Homo sapiens: one gene and its partners. The protein of the gene in region 1 interacts with the protein of each later gene in a pairwise test. Each region holds a gene or a part of one and is shown on either strand. Other genes may lie near its edges.

Region 1 (6,754 bases):
GAGGAGGGGTCAGAAGACGATAGCAATGTGAAGCCAGACTTCATGGTCACTCTGAAAACCGATTTCAGTGCACGATGCTTTCTGGACCAATTCGAAGATGACGCTGATGGATTTATTTCCCCAATGGATGATAAAATACCATCAAAATGCAGCCAGGACACAGGGCTTTCAAATCTCCATGCTGCCTCAATGTATGTCATTTTGGTGGTGGTGGTGAAATGTTTTGGTAAAAATAGCTCACTTAAATATTATCTTAGCCTTTGTATCTAAATAAATTAGCTGATAAAATACAAGTGACTACCTGGGGTGTATCTGGATAAAACGGTGATTTTTTAAAAAATTTCTTTTTTTATATGCTTCAGCCCATGTTATTTGAGGGAACTTTTGAGTCTTGTTTAAACAACCAGAAGTTCTCTCTCTAAAGGGCATCGTGTGGTTCTGTACATCACAGCCCATCACTTAACACACGCTGAGCACAGATGTCATCTCTTTCTTTCAAAGAAAAATATGACAAAGTGCCATGGGATTTCACAAGGGCTAAGAATTCCCAAGTAGCAGGAACCCCCAGAAGCTGGATCTGTTGCCAGCATGTTTGGCTTTCAGGAAATGGAAAACATGCATTTCCGCGCCCCCTCAATGCTCTCAGCAGTTTCTGCATTTACTTGCCTCCCCTTTCTGCACAGCTCCTGTTGAGTTACACATTCATCACATTTATGACAACTCAAATTTAACTTAATTTCCTTGCAATGCTTCCTCTCTCTTAGACCTGAACTCCTGGAACACCTCCAGGAAATGAGAGAAGAAAAGAAAAGGATTCGAAAGAAACTTCGGGATTTTGAAGACAACTTTTTCAGACAGAATGGAAGGTAGTGCCTGTCTTCCCCCACCCTCCCTTCCCCCCCGCCGCACCACACACACCCATCCCTCTTGTTTTTCTGTCAGATCTGTGGAATGCCTTCAAAGGGGGGACTCTTCTGCATCCTCCCTGTAACCTGGTCCTTGGGTTTGTGCCCAGGGACACTTAGAGGTTGACTGTGAGATGATGGGATTTGTGTGGACCTCCCAGAAGAAATGCTCTTTGGGTAATGCCCAAGACTAATGCAGATTCAGCTGACATTTATGAAATGAACCTGTCCCATCAAATTCTTATCTACAATGAGCAGCAGGAAGCTGCGTTTCCCGCTGGTGGTGGCACCAACGCTTTTTTCTTAAGAAGCTAGAGGTTAGCCAAGCGGCCGTAGTGGCACACCTGTAGCTCTAGCTACTTGGGAGGCTAAGGCAGGAGGATTGCTTGAACCCAGGAGTTTGAGGCTGCAGGGAGCTGTGGTCTGCTACTGCACTCTATTCTGGGCAATAGAGTGAGACTTCATTTCTAAATAAAAGGAGCTAGAGAAACAAGGGAAAGAGAGATCTAAGTATTACTGATTTTCAAGCTCATTTCAAAAATGAAGGTGATAATTGCCAAGTTTAAATGAAAAATATGTATGAAAATCAGTAAGTCGGCCAGGCGTGGTGGCTCACGCCTGTAATCCTAGCACTTTGGGAGGTCAAGGAGGGTGGATTACATGAGGTAAGGAGTTCAAGACCAGCCTGACCAACATGGTGAAACCCCATCTCTACTAAAAATACAAAAAATTAGCCGGGTGCAGTAGCACAGGCCTGTAATCCCAGCTACTCGAGGCTGAGGCAAGAGAATCACTTGAACCCGGGAGGCCAAGGTTGCAGTGAGCCGAGATCACGCCACTGCACTGCAGCCTGGGCTACAGAGCAAGACTTCGTCTCAAAAAAAACAAAGAAAAGAAAAGCAGTAAATCTACCTGGTTGATGGGCTGCCTCTCGCCAGTGAATTTTAAGGCACAATTTAGTCTTTCATGTTTACAAGCAACAGCACACAAAAATCTTACCGAAAGTCACAGTAGGAGCCTGAGGAAAGAACCAGGAACAGATTTGCATCTCTTACATTGGAGTTAGGTTTTATCATTTTAAATTGGATTTAACCCAGATTACTGAAGCTATGTAAGTATTGTTTCTCTTGAGTCCTCTTTTATACTTCTTGAAAGTTTGGGGAAATGAAAGCACCATAAAAATTAACTTTGTCATTTAAAATATATTGTATTTCAGTTTAGTTTAACAATTATTGTATGAATTTACTTTTAGGATCTCTGATTTGGATATGTCTCATATATTTTTATACCTAAACACTTGCTTTTCATTTCCCACCCATTGCACAGTATTTAGAAAATATAGGTAAGCAAATTTAAGTAGTAATTCCCAAAACAATAATAACCAAAGACAAGTCAGAATTAATGTTTTGACGTGTATCTTTCCAGTCTTTCATCTAAGCCTATTTTTTGGCTTATCCTTTTTTATATTATTCTAAGTCACATTATGCACAGATATCTTATACATGTAGAATTACGCAAACCACCCAGGTTTTAAGAAAATGTCAATGGAGGACGTTAACTTAATTGTCAAAAAAGTTTAGAACTATGAGGGACTTAGGAGATAAGCTCTGGTTCCATGACTTCGTGTCTGAGGAGAGTGAAGCCCCTCAGAGTGCAGTGGGGGCCTGCGTGCCAGATGCTCCAATTCCTGAGCACCTGTTCCTTGCCCTGCCCTCTGCTGAGAAGCCACTAGAATCCTTTCCTAGAACAAGGCAGGGTATGAATAAGATCAGTTTATTTTTAGGTCATTGAACAAATCAAGCCCCATGCTATCCTCCTTACCCATATTTGCCCTTTAATAATAAAGGCAGGAAGCCTATGGTTGAATGTTTGCCATGTGCAATTTCCCATAAAACACAAAGCAGCAGCGCACCGCGTGGTGGCCAAGAGCAGGCAAGTTATCTGATTTCCTGTGCTGGTTTCATCATGTGTAGTGTGTAGAAAATGGCTGCATCTCATCAAGGTGTTATAAGGGTTCTATCAGATCATGGGTACAAAGTACTTAGCACAGGGCTTGACCTATAAGCTCTCAAATACTTGTGCATATAAATATTATGTATGTAAAGTTACTCAATAATAAAGGCTTATTATAATAGTATTATGTAATCCAGCTGCTGAATTCTAACACAGTTTTATGATAAGTAGGAGTATTAACTATCTGTTTTTGGAAAAAAAAAAAAAAAAAAAAACTAAGTTGTGGACCAGTTGCTAATTAAAAATTTAAAATTTCACGAGATGAAATATATAAGAATGAGAAAACATTAAGTATGAATAAAAGATTTTGGTGTATGAGAGCTCAATGTGAATTCATACTTAGCAGAGAGAATTTCTGCATTTCTTAGCCTTCTTATCATACAGGATGCCAGATTAACTATATAAAAACTCAGTTGCATGTTGCCTTCTGGGTGAAACATTTTCATTACTTGTCTAAATCCAGCCCCAGTCTTGAGACCAAGGGCCACTCGGCAACACTGATTCTACAAGTTGATAAACTGCAAAGTTTCTAAACAATGATAATTTGCCCGATGAATAGTATCTAGCAAAGACAGAAAATGATCCTCAGACCCCTTTTTCCTTTATTTGCATTAGAAATGTCCAGAAGGAAGACCGCACTCCTATGGCTGAAGAATACAGTGAATATAAGCACATAAAGGCGAAACTGAGGCTCCTGGAGGTGCTCATCAGCAAGAGAGACACTGATTCCAAGTCCATGTGAGGGGCATGGCCAAGCACAGGGGGCTGGCAGCTGCGGTGAGAGTTTACTGTCCCCAGAGAAAGTGCAGCTCTGGAAGGCAGCCTTGGGGCTGGCCCTGCAAAGCATGCAGCCCTTCTGCCTCTAGACCATTTGGCATCGGCTCCTGTTTCCATTGCCTGCCTTAGAAACTGGCTGGAAGAAGACAATGTGACCTGACTTAGGCATTTTGTAATTGGAAAGTCAAGACTGCAGTATGTGCACATGCGCACGCGCATGCACGCACACACACACACAGTAGTGGAGCTTTCCTAACACTAGCAGAGATTAATCACTACATTAGACAACACTCATCTACAGAGAATATACACTGTTCTTCCCTGGATAACTGAGAAACAAGAGACCATTCTCTGTCTAACTGTGATAAAAACAAGCTCAGGACTTTATTCTATAGAGCAAACTTGCTGTGGAGGGCCATGCTCTCCTTGGACCCAGTTAACTGCAAACGTGCATTGGAGCCCTATTTGCTGCCGCTGCCATTCTAGTGACCTTTCCACAGAGCTGCGCCTTCCTCACGTGTGTGAAAGGTTTTCCCCTTCAGCCCTCAGGTAGATGGAAGCTGCATCTGCCCACGATGGCAGTGCAGTCATCATCTTCAGGATGTTTCTTCAGGACTTCCTCAGCTGACAAGGAATTTTGGTCCCTGCCTAGGACCGGGTCATCTGCAGAGGACAGAGAGATGGTAAGCAGCTGTATGAATGCTGATTTTAAAACCAGGTCATGGGAGAAGAGCCTGGAGATTCTTTCCTGAACACTGACTGCACTTACCAGTCTGATTTTATCGTCAAACACCAAGCCAGGCTAGCATGCTCATGGCAATCTGTTTGGGGCTGTTTTGTTGTGGCACTAGCCAAACATAAAGGGGCTTAAGTCAGCCTGCATACAGAGGATCGGGGAGAGAAGGGGCCTGTGTTCTCAGCCTCCTGAGTACTTACCAGAGTTTAATTTTTTTAAAAAAAATCTGCACTAAAATCCCCAAACTGACAGGTAAATGTAGCCCTCAGAGCTCAGCCCAAGGCAGAATCTAAATCACACTATTTTCGAGATCATGTATAAAAAGAAAAAAAAGAAGTCATGCTGTGTGGCCAATTATAATTTTTTTCAAAGACTTTGTCACAAAACTGTCTATATTAGACATTTTGGAGGGACCAGGAAATGTAAGACACCAAATCCTCCATCTCTTCAGTGTGCCTGATGTCACCTCATGATTTGCTGTTACTTTTTTAACTCCTGCGCCAAGGACAGTGGGTTCTGTGTCCACCTTTGTGCTTTGCGAGGCCGAGCCCAGGCATCTGCTCGCCTGCCACGGCTGACCAGAGAAGGTGCTTCAGGAGCTCTGCCTTAGACGACGTGTTACAGTATGAACACACAGCAGAGGCACCCTCGTATGTTTTGAAAGTTGCCTTCTGAAAGGGCACAGTTTTAAGGAAAAGAAAAAGAATGTAAAACTATACTGACCCGTTTTCAGTTTTAAAGGGTCGTGAGAAACTGGCTGGTCCAATGGGATTTACAGCAACATTTTCCATTGCTGAAGTGAGGTAGCAGCTCTCTTCTGTCAGCTGAATGTTAAGGATGGGGAAAAAGAATGCCTTTAAGTTTGCTCTTAATCGTATGGAAGCTTGAGCTATGTGTTGGAAGTGCCCTGGTTTTAATCCATACACAAAGACGGTACATAATCCTACAGGTTTAAATGTACATAAAAATATAGTTTGGAATTCTTTGCTCTACTGTTTACATTGCAGATTGCTATAATTTCAAGGAGTGAGATTATAAATAAAATGATGCACTTTAGGATGTTTCCTATTTTTGAAATCTGAACATGAATCATTCACATGACCAAAAATTGTGTTTTTTTAAAAATACATGTCTAGTCTGTCCTTTAATAGCTCTCTTAAATAAGCTATGATATTAATCAGATCATTACCAGTTAGCTTTTAAAGCACATTTGTTTAAGACTATGTTTTTGGAAAAATACGCTACAGAATTTTTTTTTAAGCTACAAATAAATGAGATGCTACTAATTGTTTTGGAATCTGTTGTTTCTGCCAAAGGTAAATTAACTAAAGATTTATTCAGGAATCCCCATTTGAATTTGTATGATTCAATAAAAGAAAACACCAAGTAAGTTATATAAAATAAATTGTGTATGAGATGTTGTGTTTTCCTTTGTAATTTCCACTAACTAACTAACTAACTTATATTCTTCATGGAATGGAGCCCAGAAGAAATGAGAGGAAGCCCTTTTCACACTAGATCTTATTTGAAGAAATGTTTGTTAGTCAGTCAGTCAGTGGTTTCTGGCTCTGCCGAGGGAGATGTGTTCCCCAGCAACCATTTCTGCAGCCCAGAATCTCAAGGCACTAGAGGCGGTGTCTTAATTAATTGGCTTCACAAAGACAAAATGCTCTGGACTGGGATTTTTCCTTTGCTGTGTTGGGAATATGTGTTTATTAATTAGCACATGCCAACAAAATAAATGTCAAGAGTTATTTCATAAGTGTAAGTAAACTTAAGAATTAAAGAGTGCAGACTTATAATTTTCATAAGTACTTTTATTGTGTTCAGTCTGGCGTAAACGTTGAAATAGATGTTTATATTAAGTATGATATCATTATGTTTCATCTTTGAATCATTTAGTTCAGATTCACTTTCTAAGACTTGTAGGTGCAAGATTTAGGATAAGGGACAGCTTAGAAGTTTTTCAAGATGGTAGAAGTTTGTCCTGTGCTGCTTTAAAAAAAATAATAAAAATTTAAAAAGCTAGCACAATTTTGGTGACCTCCCAAATGAGGGAAAATTTCCGTGAAAGACCAAATTTCAAACTGGAGTACTAAAAATTATTTTTTTAATTACCAGCTAGGATGTTGTCAGCTGTTAAGATTTCTTCCATTTGCCTACCAGTTCAAAGTCAAAAGAAGATTATTACTCATTGCAGGGATCAGTGATGTCTCTGTAACATCAGTGTAATTTTTGCTTTGTCTCATAATTCATTGCTTGGGTGGCAGCGGAATAGCCTCTTGCAGGGTGTGCCTGCTCCCAGGTGTGACATTTCCAGCCA
Region 2 (7,028 bases), about 96 Mb from region 1:
ATCATCACTTAGATCACGAGTCAGCAAACTACCTGTCCGTAAACGAAATCTTGTCTGCCATCTGTTTTTGTAAATAAAGTTTTATTGGAACACAGCCCCACTGATGGGTATATGTATTGTCTCCCCCAGCTTTCACACTACGACTGCAGAGCTAAGTAGCTGTGATTGAGACCCTATGGCCCACAGAGACTAAAATACTTAGCATCTGATCCCTTACTGAAAAGTTTGTAGGCCAGGCGCAGTGGCTCACGCCTGTAATCCCAACACTTTGGGAAGCCGAGGCGGGTGGATCACCTGAGGTCAGGAGTTCGAGACCAGCCCGGTCCACATGGCGAAACTCCTTCTCTACTAAAAATACAAAAATTAGCCGGGTGTGGCAGTGCGTGCCTGTAATCCCAGCCACTAGGGAGGCTGAGGCAGGAGGATCACTTGAATGCAGGAGGCAGAAGTTGCAGTGAGCTGAGATTGCACCATTGCACTCCAGCCTGGGCGACAAGAGTGAGACTCCATCTCAAAAAAAAGAAAAGTTTGTAGATCCTTGGTTGATAGATTTATTTAAATTTTTTAAAGAAACAGGTCCTCACTCCATCGCCCAGGCTGGAGTACAGTGACAGGATTCTAGCTCACTGCAGCCTCCAACTCCTGGGCTCAAGTGATCCTCCCACCTCAGCCTCCAGAGCAGCTGGGACTACAGGTGCATACCACTGTGCCCAGCTTGTAGACCCTTGATTTAGATGATGTATGAACATGAAAAATACAGAATACAAAACTTTTCTATACTGAATTAATAATACAATTTACAGTTAAAGCAAAACTAGGGGAGAGGAGGCCATAAGTTAAGAATTGACCTTTAAAAGAAAAATGACATACAACCCCATTATAGTTCCATTACTGTTACCATAATAGTGTTTGTGTAATAAATTAGGCACATAAGTGATGAGTGGGAGTCTGCTCAGTGGTTGAAACGAATCAATGGAGTCAGACACACCCAGACTCAAAATATGATTCTGCTACTTCCCAGTTGTGCGATCCTGGGCATGTACACAGGATGTTCACGACAGCACAGCATCTACTACTGTTTGCAGTAGCAATGCATGAGGAACAACTTTACTGTCTATTAAGAGGAAAATGAATAAATAAAATGTCGTGTAAGCACATATCTGCCAAAAAGGATACACTGAGATCTACAAAAATAACACTGAATAAAAAAGCAGAATTTAAAAAGCAACGAGGCTGGCACCATGGCTCATGACTGTAATCTCAGCAGTTAGGGAGGCCAAGGTGGGAGGACTGCTTGAGCCCAGGAGTTCCAGACCACATAATGAGACCCCGTTGCTACAAGAAATTAAAAAATAAAAATTAGCTGGGCATAGTGGTGTGCCTGGAGTCCCAGCTACTGAGGAGGCTGAGGTAGAAGGATCACCTGTGCACAGGAGGTTGATAATGCAATGAGTCATCATCACACCACTGCACTCCAGCCTGGGCTACAGGGCAAGACCTTGTCTCAAAATAAACAAATAAATAAGCAAGCAATGATACAATTACATAAAACTTAAAACATATACAAAACAATGCTATATTCTTCATGAGCACAAACATACAAGCCAAGTTATAGAACATGGATTGGAAGGATACACATTAAACATGAGTATAACTCATGAGGGGAGGGGAGAGGAGTAGTGTGCTCAGGGGAAGGAGAAATATAAAAACTCGGATAGAGGCCTGCGATCTTGAGTCATCACAAACGTAAAGACTATGGCTGATCATAATCTAATTTTGCCCACTTGAATGTAAAAGGAAAAACAAACTAAAATAGCCACTGAATGGTGAATAGGTCTTATAACACTGTCATTAAACTCCCAAAAATGTCACCTTTTTTTGTGAGATAATTCACCTTTGAAAACAAAATGTCAAGGAGTGGAATAAAAAGAACTGTGGATACCCCACAGTGTAATGGTGAGCACTCTGGACTCTAAAAAGAACTGTGGTTGTTGTTTTTTCCTTTCTTACTTTGTTGTGTGGTTAAGAATATCTTTGCAATTAAAAATTTTAAATTGTTTCTTCAAATTTCAAAAGTAAACGGTTTAATAGCATAGCCCAGAGCAATATTTTATAAACTACAGGTCACAATCCAGTTTAAAATCAATTCAGTAGCTCATGTCCATCATTAAACTGACGAAGTAGAACACAGTGTAATAATCAAGAGTGCATTATAGGCCAGGTGCAGTGGCTCACGCCTGTAATCCCAGCACTTTGGGAGGCCGAGGTGGGCAGATCACTTGAGGTAGGAGTTCAAGACCAGCCTGGCCAACATGATGAAACCCTGTCTCTACCAAAAATATAAAAAATTAGCTGGGTGTGGTGGCACGTGCCTATAATCCCAGCTACTCGGGAGGCTGAGGCAGGAGAATCACTTGAACCTGGCAGGCGGAGGTTGCAGTGAGCTGAGATCATGCTTCCAGCCTGGGGGACAGAAGGATAGTCCGTCTCAAAAAAAAAAAAAAAAGAGTGCATTACATATTATAAGAGTAAGTTTCATGAAACCATCATTTCTATTACTTAAATGCATTGAGTGTACTAGGCCTTGATGTAAAACCAGCTTCACATTCCTGAGAGTCTCAGGCAAGGGTTGGAAATGCCACTGATCTATGGAGATAAAAAGCTTTCATCAAAAGGTAATGTACTATGATACATAAAGATGGAATGAAAGGTTAAACTTTGGGTGGTATTAGACAGTGTCAAGTGTCATAGGTAATATGACAGAGTCTAGGAAAACTCTGCTAATAGATTAAGGCCTCACTACAATAAATCAGGAACCAGAGTTGAAGAAATGTAGTTTAAGGCCAAGCGCAGTGGGTTGCGCCTGTAATCCCAGCATTTTGGGAAGCTGAGGTGAATGGATTATTTGAGGTCAGGAGTTCAAAACCAGCCTGGCCAACGTGGTGAAACCTTATCTTTACAAAAATACAAAGATTAGCTGGGTGTGGTGGCAGGCGCCTGTAATCCCAGCTACTCAAGAAGCTGAGGCAGGAGAATTGCTTGAATCCAGGAGGCAGAGGTTGCAGTGAGCTGATATTTTGCCACTGCACTCCATCCTGGGCAATAGAGCGAGACTCCCTCTTAATTAAAAAAAAAAAAAAAAAAAAAGACATGTAGCTTAAATTACAAATATAAAAAATAAACATTTTCTTGAAATTTGAAGAAACTGAAATCACAAAATTATTTAGCTATAAGAGATGGATGATTACACTGAAGAAATGAAGAGATCTTAAACATAACAAAAGAGTAATTTTACTAACTCACAATCAAGTAATAAGTTTCTATTAATTCTTGGCCCAGAATTAATATTACACATATGTATATAAACTTATTAACAGCCACGTGACTATTACACTGAATGTCTCTGCTGGATTTTACTGGCGAATATATTAAAAGAAAAGTTGTTTTTGAATTTTTTTTTTTTTTTTGAGACAGAGTCTCTCTGAGTCTCCCAGGCTGGAGCGCAGTGGCGCGTGATCTCGGCTCACCGCAACCTCAGACTCCCTGCTTCAAGGGATTCTCCTGCCTCAGCCTCCCGAGTAGCTGGAATTACAGGCACGTGCCACCACACCCGGCTAATTTTTGTATTTTTAGTAGAGATGGGGTTTCACCGTGTTAGCCAGGATGGTCTTGATCTCCTGACCTCGGGATCCGCCCGCCTTGGCCTCCCAAAGTGCTGGGATTACAGGTGTGAGCCACCGCGAAAAGTTTAAATTTTCCTAGTCCACTTAACATCCAAATTATTCCAACTCCCATCCCTTAGAAAATTTTAAATCAAAAGCTAGAAATGATTAAGCTTAGTGAGGAAGGTATGCTGAAAGTCCAGGAGACAGGCCAAAAGCTAGGCCTCTTGCACCAGTTAGCCAAGTTGTGAAAGCAAAGGAAAAATTCTTGAAGGAAATTAAGACTGCTACTTCAGCGAACATGGGAATAAGAAAGCGAAAGAGCCTTACTGCTGATATGGAGAAAGTCTGAATGGTCTGGATACACCAAGCCAGCCACCACATTCCCCTAAGCCAAAGCCTAGTCCAAAGCAAGGCCCTCACTCACTTTCAATTCTATGAAGGCCGAGAGAGGTAAAGACGATGTAGAAATCTCAAGCTACCTGAGGCTGTCTCATAAGGTTTAAGAAAAGAAGCCTGCTCAGCCGGGTGTGGTGGCTCACGCCTATAATCCCAACACTTCCGGAGGCTGAAGTGGGCAGATCACTTGAAGTCAGGAGTTCAAGACCAGCCTGGCCAACACGGTGAAACCCTATCTCTACTAAAAATACAAAAACCAGCCAGGTGTGGTGGCAGGAGCCTGAAGTCCCAGCTACTTGGGAGGCTGAGGCACAAGAATCCTTTGAACTGGGAAGGCAGAAGCTGCAGTGAGCCAAGATTGCATCACTACACTCCAGCCTGGGTGACAGAGTGAGACTCTGTCTTAAAAAAAAAAAAAAGAAAGAAAGGAAGAAAAAGAAGCCTACTCTATCACATAAAAGTACAAGGTAAGCCAGGCATGGTGGCTCACGCCTGTAATCCCAGAACTTTGGGAGGCCGAGATGGGCAGATCACCTCAGGTCAGGAGTTCAAGACCAGCCTGACCAAAATGGTGAAACCCCATCTCTACTAAAAATACAAAATTAGCCGGGTGTGGTGGCGCATGCCTGTAATCCCAGCTACAGAGGAGGCTGAGGCAGGAGAATCACTTGAAGCCAGGAGATGGAGGTTGCAGTAAGCCGAGATCGCGTCATTGCACTCCAGCCTGGGCAACAAGAGCGAAACTCCATCTCAAAAAAAAGACAAAACAGTACAAGGTAAAACAGCAAGTGCTGATGGAGAAGCTGCAGAAGATCTAGCTAAGAGAATTGCTGAATGTGACTACAATAAACATCAGATTTCCAGTGCAGACGAAACAGCCTTCCATTGGAAAAGGATGCTAACCATCTAGGATTTTCATAGCTAGAGGGAGAAGTCAATACCTGGTCTCAACACTTCAAAGAACAGGCTGACTCTTATTAAGAGCTAATGGAGCTGGTGACTTTAAAATGAAGCCCGTGCTCATTTACCATTTCAAAAATATTAGGGCCCTTAGGCTGGGTACAGTGGCTCCCACCTGTAATTCCAGCACTTTGGGAGGCTGAGACGGGCGGATCACTTGAGGCCAGGAGATGGAGACCAGCCTGAGCAACAGGGCGAAACCCCATCTCTACAAAAAGAGAAAAATTAGCCAGGAGTAGTGGCATGTACCTGTTAATTCCAGCTACTGGGGAAGCTGAGGCTGGAGAATAGGTTGAACCCAGGAGGCAGGTTGCAGTGAGCCGCGATCCGGCCACTGCACTACAGCCTGGGTGACAGAGCAAGACTCCGTCTCAAAAAAGAAAAGAAAAATCTGGGTGCGGTGCCTCCCACCTATAATCCAAGCACTTTCGGAGGCCAAGGCAGGTGGATCACCTGAGGTCAGGAGTTCCAGACCAGCCTGGCCAACATGGTGAAACCCTGTCTCCACTAAAAATAACAAAAGTTAGCCAGGGGCTAATTTTTATATTAATAGTCTCAGCTACTCGGGAGGCTGAGGCATGAGAATCACTTGAACCCAGGAGGTGGAGGTTGCAGTGAGCCAAGATTGTGCCAGTGCATTTCAGCCTGGGTGAGGCAGCAAGACTCTGTCCAAAAAAAACAAAAAAGAAAAAATCTTAAGGGCCTTAAGAATTATGCTAAATCTACTCTGCCTGTGGTCTATATATAAAACAAAAAGCCCAAATGACAGCACACCTATTTACAGCCATAATTCACTTTATGTTTTAAGCCCACTGTTGAGATCGACTGCTCAGACAAAAAATTCAAAATATTACTGCTCATTGACAATGTACCTGGTCACCCAATAGCTCTAATGAAGATGTGCAAGATTAATGTTTTCACGCCTGCTAACAACATCCACTCTGCAGCCCATGGTTCAAGGAGTAAGTCAAATTTCAAGTCTTACTTTTCAAGAAATACATTTTGTAAGGCCATATTTGTCACAGATAATAATTCCTCTGACGGATCTGAGCAAAATAAATTGAAAACCTTCCCCATTAAGAACACTTATGATTCATAGGAGGAGGTCAAAATATCAACATCAACAAGAGTTTGGAAGAAGCTGATTCTAACCCTTATGGATAACTTTAAGGGATTTAAGACTTAACTGGGGAAGGAACTGCAGCTGTGGTAGAAATGGCACGGGAACTAGAATTAGAAGTGGAGCCTGGTATTTTAGAAGGCCAAGGCAGGAGGACCAGTTGAGCCCAGAAGTTTTAGACCAGCCTGGACAACATAGTGAGATCCCGTCTCTTAAAAGAAAAAACTAAACTACAAAATTAGCTGGGCACGGTGGCTCACGCCTATAATCCCAGCACTTTGGGAGGCTGTGGCAGGCAAATGACTTGAGGACAGTAGTTCGAGACCAGCCTGGCCAACAGGGTGAATCTCCGTCTCTACTAAAAATACAAAAATTAGCTAGGTGTGGTAGCACATGTCTGTAATCCCAGCTACTCGGGAGGCTGAGGCATGGGAATCACTTGAACCTGGGAGGTAGAGGTTGCAGCAGTGAACCGAGCTTGCGTCACGGCACTCCAGCGGGTGACAGAGTGAGATTCTGTCTCAAAAAAAAAAAAGCTGGGTTGCAGTGGCACGTGCCTGTAGAGGCTGTGAGGCAGGAGGATCACTTGGGCTGGGGAGGTTGAGGCTGCAATGACCTGGGATCATGCCAAAGCACTGCAGCCTGGGTGACAGAACAAGACCCTGTCAAAAAAAAGAAAAAATAAGTGGTGCCTCAAGATGTAACTGAATTGCTGCAATCTCACAATAAAACTTGAACAGATGAGGACTTGCTTCTTATGGATGAGCAAAGAAAGTAGTTTCTTGAGATGGAATTTACTCCTGAAGAAGCTGTAAATGTAGTTGAAATGACAACAAATGATTTAGAATATTCTGTATACTTAGCTAATAAAGCAGCGGCAGGGTTTG
Region 3 (7,028 bases), on another chromosome or scaffold:
CTCCCCTTCCCGGGTTCAAGTGATTCTCCTGCCTCAGCCTCCTGAGTAGCTGGGATTACAGGCATGTGCCTCCACGCCCGGCTAATTTTGTATTTTTTAGTAGAGATGGAGTTTCTCCATGTTGGTCAGGCTGGTCGCAAATTCCCAACCTCAGGTGATCCGCCTGCCTTGGCCTCCCAAAGTGCTGCGATTACAGGCGTGAGCCACTACGCCTGGCCCCCATTTTCTCATTAAGAAAGTACACTCATTATAAATAACTGTAATATGCCAGAATATCATAATCAACCTCAACCAGGAATAGATAAAATAATAGTTTTATCTATTCCTGGTCCCCTTAGTTAATTCTCATCTTTTTCAAGGGTTTAGTCTATTTAGTTTAGATAATAACCAGAAAATAGTTTTATTATTGAAGTTCACTAAATACAAACCAAATAATTTGAGTGGAAATAAGTTGTTCTTCAATATTCTCTCTCTTTTTTTTTTTTTTTTTTTTTTTTTTGAGACAGAGTCTCACTCCAATGTCCAAGCTGGAGTACAGTGGCATGATCTTAGCTCACTGCAACCTCCACCTCCCGGGTTCAACTGACCCTCCCAACTCAGTCTCCCTAGTAGCTGGGACCACAAGCGCATGCCACCGTGCCTGGCTAATTTTCATACTTTTAGTAGAGACAGGGTTTCACCATTCGGCCAGGATGGTCTCGAACTCCTGACCTCAGATGACCCGCCCGCCTCAGCCTCCCAAAGTGATGGGATTACAGGCGTGAGCTACCGTGCCCAGCCAAGTTCTTCAATATTCTTGATGAGATTCTACGGATTTAATCCTGGTTCAACTAGGATAATAATAATGTGCTTTCAGAGAAGATGTTATGCACAAAGCACCTTTAACGATGCAACACAGTATTAAAATGTACCCTTGGCCGTTTTTTTAAGTAACATCCTTTAAAGATTTTAAGTTTGGGGCAAGGAGGGTTATCATAAATTTATAATTTGCAACAATCGCTAATATACTGAATTAAAAGTTGTTTAGGGCTGGGCGCGGTGGCTTACGCCTGTAATCCCAGCACTTTGGGAGGCCGAGGCAGGTGGATCATGAGGTCAGGAGATCGAGACCATCCTGACTAGCACAGTGAAACCCTGTCTCTAGTAAAAATACAAAAAATTAGCCAGGCGTGGTGGCGGGTGCTTGTAGTCCCAGCTACTTAGGAGGCTGAGGCAGGAGAATGGCATGAACCTGGGAGGCGGAGCTTGCAGTGAGCTGAGATCGCGCCACTGCACTCCAGCCTGGGCAACAGAGCAAGACTCCATCTCAAAAAACAAAAAAAAAAAAGTTGTTTAAACTGTGAGTATGGAATAACATATCCCATAATTGATAATAATCCCAATATTCTGGGTAAAAAATCCCAGCCTCTTCTGAGATTCTCAGCTAAATACTCACCACATTCCATAATTAAGTTGGTTTTCATAAACCACATCCCTGGTAACTTAAAACAAAAAAATCATTGCAATGGTCCCTCTGCCATCAAACCTTTCCCCTCATTGCTCTTTTTATCAATAAAATGCAAGTTGACAGACTAAAAATGAGACAAAGCAAAGCACCAAGGGAACCAGAGAGGTTCAGCAAGACCCTGGGTATGAACACTCGCACACATCTCTGGGTCCTCTAAGGTCCATAGCTTTATGATATACAAAGCTGACATCTGCTTATGGATGATCAAAGCCAAACCACAGGCGCAACTACTAAGAGCTCTCTAGACTTCTATAATCTCCCCAAGTACATCTTTTGGAAAGTAGAATGCATTGGACAAGATTTTTACTAAGCCATAAGCATTTATTGCAAAGAGTTCCACTGGTTTGTTCTCCCATATGGTCTCAAACATTTCTGGTTAATACCAGACTATTAACCTTCATGTTCTTTTCACTGATCTTTAAATTGTAATAAATTTGTTGGGTTCTAGTAAGTCCTGGGCCCAAGAGCTAGATAAATGGTGCCTCATTCCCCCTGCTATTGGAGTGAAGTACAAGATCTGCCCAATTATACTTCAAGTAAGTTCAGAGTGGGAGTGAATCCCAGAGAGCAAACTACCTGATGGTCCCTTTAAGTGAACCTAAAATACCAGTTAAATGCTGGGCTCTTAACCCTGAGGCAGAAGTGAAATATTATTAAAGAAAGGAAAGAAAGCGGGCTTTATCAAAATGAGTGTCAGGAAGCTTTGTTACTCAGTGGCACAGTAATAAATAAATAAAGACACAGTTAATAAGTGTGCAAAAATGAATATATAAATACAGTCATGTGCCAAATAACAACATTTCGGTCAACACAGACCACATATACCACGGTGGTCCCATAAAATTTTAACAGGGTTGAAAAAGGCCTACTGCCTAGTGATTTGTGTTACAATTGGCTACGGTATTCACCACAGGTTTGTAGCCTGGGAAGAACAGGCAATACTACATAGTTCAGGTGTGTCATAGTAGGCTACACCATCTAGGTTTGTGTAATTACTGTATACTTATGATGTTCACACAATACAATTGCCTAAGGATGCATTTCTCAGAACATATACTGGTTGTTAAGTAATGCATGACTGTAAACAAAATTGTGCTGCTTAAGATTTGGGGTACAATTAGGCAACTTCAGCAAAGAGCAAGGAAAAAACTCAATAGCTTTATGCACAGCTGACAAAAAAGCTTTAAAAAGTTACCGCTGACGATCTGACTTGTATGTGGCTGTCAGCTCGTCAAACATGGTGCTGTTCATTTCCATAAATGCCTTCAACACATTGTACACCAACGCCACAATAGCCCTGGAAAGCACAGAAAAAAAGGAGTGTGTTAGTTAGTCTTATAAAATGGGATACTGAATGAAGAAAGCAAAAGCACAACTTTTGTCTGAATGATTTCTCGTACTGCACACTGTCTGTATCCTTTTTTAGTTGGAACAACTGAAAATGACCTACAGTTCATTTCCACATCAAGAGATTTCAAGGCAAGATAATTTTCTGAGGGGTGGTAGAACTAGAAAAAAAATCTAACTTTGCCCTTCTAATTTCTTTTTTTTTTTTTTTGCAACGGAGTTTCGCTCTTGTTGCCCAGGCTGGAGTGCAATGGCACCATCTTGGCTCACCGCAACCTCCGCCTCTTGGGTTCAAGCAATTCTCCTGCCTCAGTCTCCTGGGTAGCTGGGATTACAGAAGCGAGCCACCACACCTGGCTAATTTTGTATTTTTAGTAGAGACGAGGTTTCTCCATGTTGGTCAGGCTGGTCTCGAACTCCCAACCTCAGGTGATCTGCCTGCCTCGGCCTCCCAAAGTGCTGGGATTATAGGCGTGAGCCACCACACCTGGCCTGCCCTTCTAATTATTGGCACCCAGAATAGAGCTGCCTGTGGGCATTTGATAATTTCATTTAATAAAAAGGCAAGTATAATAGTAAAGCAATTTCACCCTAAAATAAGGATCTGTGATAGCACTAACCTTAGACATCTGAATTTGCATAGAATTCTATTTTCTAAATAACACATAATTCATCAAAATCAGAAGCTACTTCCCTAGAAACAAATGTTATATATATATGTGTATATATATAAATTATTCTTATCCAAAGAAATGAAATCAAGCCCTCATGTAGGTTGGGTGGTTCAATATGAATTATCTGTCTAGCTCTGATCTGCACCAGTCCTGCTGACCCAAAATATATGCTGATAACTGGCAAGCTGGGATGGTTGCTATTAGCTATGGGACACTATACAGCTAAACAGCCAAAATGGTAGCCCATACTTAACAAGAATTAGCTCTTGGGCAATGTGAGGACAAGGTTATGATGGGCTTGATAGCTTCAGACTAGAGTCTAAATAGCTTTTCCTTTTGCAAAAATATCCGTTGCTTCCGTTTTGCAACAAACATGCTCCTAATACCACTGAAAAATGCATTGGTAAAAATTAGCCATATATTAAATAAACCATGAGTCTGATGTTTCCAAAACATTTACAAGAAAGTACACTTGCTGTGTAGCTTCTGCCTTGTGCCATTAAAAGGAAAATTTAAGTTCTTTTCTGTTAAGGTTCCAGAATGACCTTCCTCCCAAGGGCAGTGATGGGAAAGCACCAAATGTAGTATACTGAGTAGTTACAGACACTTGCTAGAACCGTTCTCTAGGTCCTCAAGAGACTATCTGTATAAAGGGACTTAACTGTTTATCAGCTCCTTATTTTTACAAGTTCTATTAATATAATTAGGCAAATTTGAAAAATTAGAAATGTGATATTTTATAATTACATGCAAAATTTTTAAAGATAAACATATTATGAATATACTGAATTGTATCTCCCAATTTTTAAATACCACATTAAATTTTCCTTCTATTCCACAGAGAAAAATGTAAAGGCATTCAAATTCAGAATGCTTTAACTTTCATAGGGCTGGATGTTAAACTTCCCTTGATGATTTTAAACTCCTTCCTTTCCAAGAGATACATATAGCGACTGAGTTGGCTGTTAAATAGATCACACTAAAATGAAAACCTAGTCAGACCACTTCCCCACTTAACAACCCTTCAGTACTTCCTCATCATCTACTTGGTGAAGGCTCACACGAGTCCCACAGTCTTTTCTAGCCACATCCTCTAGCACCCTCCCCAAAAGACCTTGTGCCTCAGCCCTCCCAAACTCACAGGTCTCAGAAACTGACAGCTGCTTTTTACATCTTTGTGCCTTTTAACATGATGGATGGACCCACTGTCTGAAAGGGCTCTCCCCATGCCATCCACCTGCCAAATTCCTTTCAGATTCAGTCTAAGCATGGCCATGCTGTCAGTATCTACACACCTCTCCTCTCAGCTGCAGTGCCTCCCCAAAAGATCTGCTACCTTCATAGACAGATCAAGAAGCCTGTCTAGTAAACAGATACTTTAACCGGTATTTTGTTAAAGTATCTGTTTATTTTCTCCAGTCAGTGAATCCCCAGAAGGTAAGGATTTTATCTTTTCACATACGTCTTCAGCAACAAGGACAGCATCTGGCACATAATAAGGCTGAAGGGAAAGAAAGAGAGGAAGGGAGGAAGAGAACGGAGGAAAGAAACTGAAAACCTACGGATTCCAATGTTCTTTTGAAATCCTATAAAGGCTGGAAAACATGATGGGAAGGATGACGTTAGAGTTTTCTTCTATCAAACTCATGATGTATTCATTATTCCAATAATAGAGTGCTCTTTCTGCCACCTTTGGGAAAAGAAAAATAAAATGTTAAGAGAGAGAAAAAGACAAAGATAAAACAAAATTATAAATCTTTCCAAACAAAAGTATTTCAAAAGGCTATTTGTAAATCATTCAATTAGAGGTAAAATTAAATATTAATCACATTTTAATATATATATATTTTTTGAGATGGGAGTCTCGCTAGTGGCGCGATCTCGGCTCTCTGCAACCTCCGCCTCTCGGGTTCAAGCGATTCTCCTGCCTCAGCCTCCCGAGTAACTGGGATTACAGGCACATGCCACTATGCCTAGCTAATGTTTGTATTTTTAGTAGAGGCGGGGTTTCACCACATTGGCCAGGATGGTCTCGATCTCCTGACCTCGTGATCCGCCCACCTCAGCCTCCCAAAAGTGTTGGGATTACAGGCGTGAACCACCGTGCCTGGCCCACATTTTAAATGTTTGTGGATTTTTAATCTCTTGGAAAATTCCAAAGTGGGCCAGGCACGGTGGCTCACACCTGTAATCCCAGCACTTTGGGAGGCCAAGGCAGGCAGATCACTTGAGCCCAAGAGTCTGAGACCAGCCTGGGCAACATGGGGAGACCTCGCCTCTACAAAAACACAAAAATTAGCCGGGATTGGTGGCATGTGCCTATAGTCCCACCTACTTGGGAGGCTGAGGTGGGAGGACTGCTTGAGCCTGGGAGGCGGAGGTTGCAGTGAGTGGAGATCATGCCACTGAACTCCAGCTTGGGTGACAGAGCAAGACCGTGTCTTCTCCTCCCACCAAAAAAAAAGTCCAGAGTGGTTCAAGTGGTTCATCGACTCAGGGAAGGAAAAGAAGTTTTCCTGTTAATTTATATTCTTCTCTAATTCTGCCCATGTCATCTGATTCCACACTTTCCTGACATCACTTTAGCACATCTCACTGGTCCCCTTTCTTATGTTTTTCATCACACACACTTAGATCGAACCCAGGGCCCAGCATATGGTTAGCATTCAGTCACAGCTACTGAGGAACACCCACAGTTGCTCATCCCTGTAGAGCGGCCAATATTTACTAAGTACCTCCTATGGGCAGGCACTGTGCCTACACAGCAAGTAGAATGTATCATCCTTACCACCATCCCAGAAGGAGATACCATTGTGCTCATTTTACAGGTGAGGACACAGAGACTCAGGGAGACTGAGTAATGTAGGCAAGGTTACACTGACAATATGGTAAAGACTGGGGCCTCATTTCTAGGGCTTCTTCCAGAGTTTGTTTCTGGTCCCTTCCTGTGCAAGCCAGGAGATGTCTGCTCAGTTTCTGGTCTCAGGGACACTGGCTGCACCTACCCTCTCTGCTCTCTTAGATCCCTTTTCTCTGCCCACCATGCTATCAACTGGCTCTAATTTGGTCTGCTGGGCCTGATTGGCTCATCTTGGATTTCATGAATTCAAAAGAACATCTCAAAAACAAAACCTAAAATCTCTAAAAAGGGTAGTTACAGGGGAAAAGGGAAAAAGGGGTGGCTTCCTTCATTTATACAGATTAAGAAGCCCTGTTTTAGAAGAGAACAAAATGGTATAAGATGTATCTACCGAAAGACACTGAGAAAACAGAATTTTTCCATTTACATTATTCAGCTTGGTTCAAAAAACAAAACAAAACCCTGAGACTCATTAGGCACCAGACCCTGAGAGTACAAAGAAAACAATCATTACTGCATGTTCACTATATGCCAGGCACTGTGCTAAGTGTCCCACATATATAATATCTCATTTCCTCACAACCAACAGAGTTGGTACCATTACTTTTCTATTTTGTGGATGAAGAATCTGAGACTCAGA

The links.
Region 2: the proteins of FAM13A (region 1) and CFAP97 interact in a two-hybrid assay, tested with the Homo sapiens proteins (one study listed by IntAct).
Region 3: the proteins of FAM13A (region 1) and PPP2R5E interact in a two-hybrid assay, tested with the Homo sapiens proteins (one study listed by IntAct).

What each region holds. Positions count from the first base shown.
Region 1 is NC_000004.12:88,725,439-88,732,192, reverse strand, and holds the end of FAM13A (protein FAM13A), read left to right. Parts: coding exon 1-191; intron 192-764; coding exon 765-866; intron 867-2,089; exon of another isoform or gene 2,090-3,533; coding exon 3,534-3,660; 3' UTR 3,661-6,233; downstream 6,234-6,754.
Region 2 is NC_000004.12:185,193,977-185,201,004, forward strand, and holds part of CFAP97 (cilia- and flagella-associated protein 97), read right to left. Parts: intron 1-7,028.
Region 3 is NC_000014.9:63,379,354-63,386,381, forward strand, and holds part of PPP2R5E (serine/threonine-protein phosphatase 2A 56 kDa regulatory subunit epsilon isoform), read right to left. Parts: intron 5,219-7,028; coding exon 5,091-5,218; intron 2,805-5,090; coding exon 2,703-2,804; intron 1-2,702. UniProt on the Homo sapiens protein: The B regulatory subunit might modulate substrate selectivity and catalytic activity, and might also direct the localization of the catalytic enzyme to a particular subcellular compartment.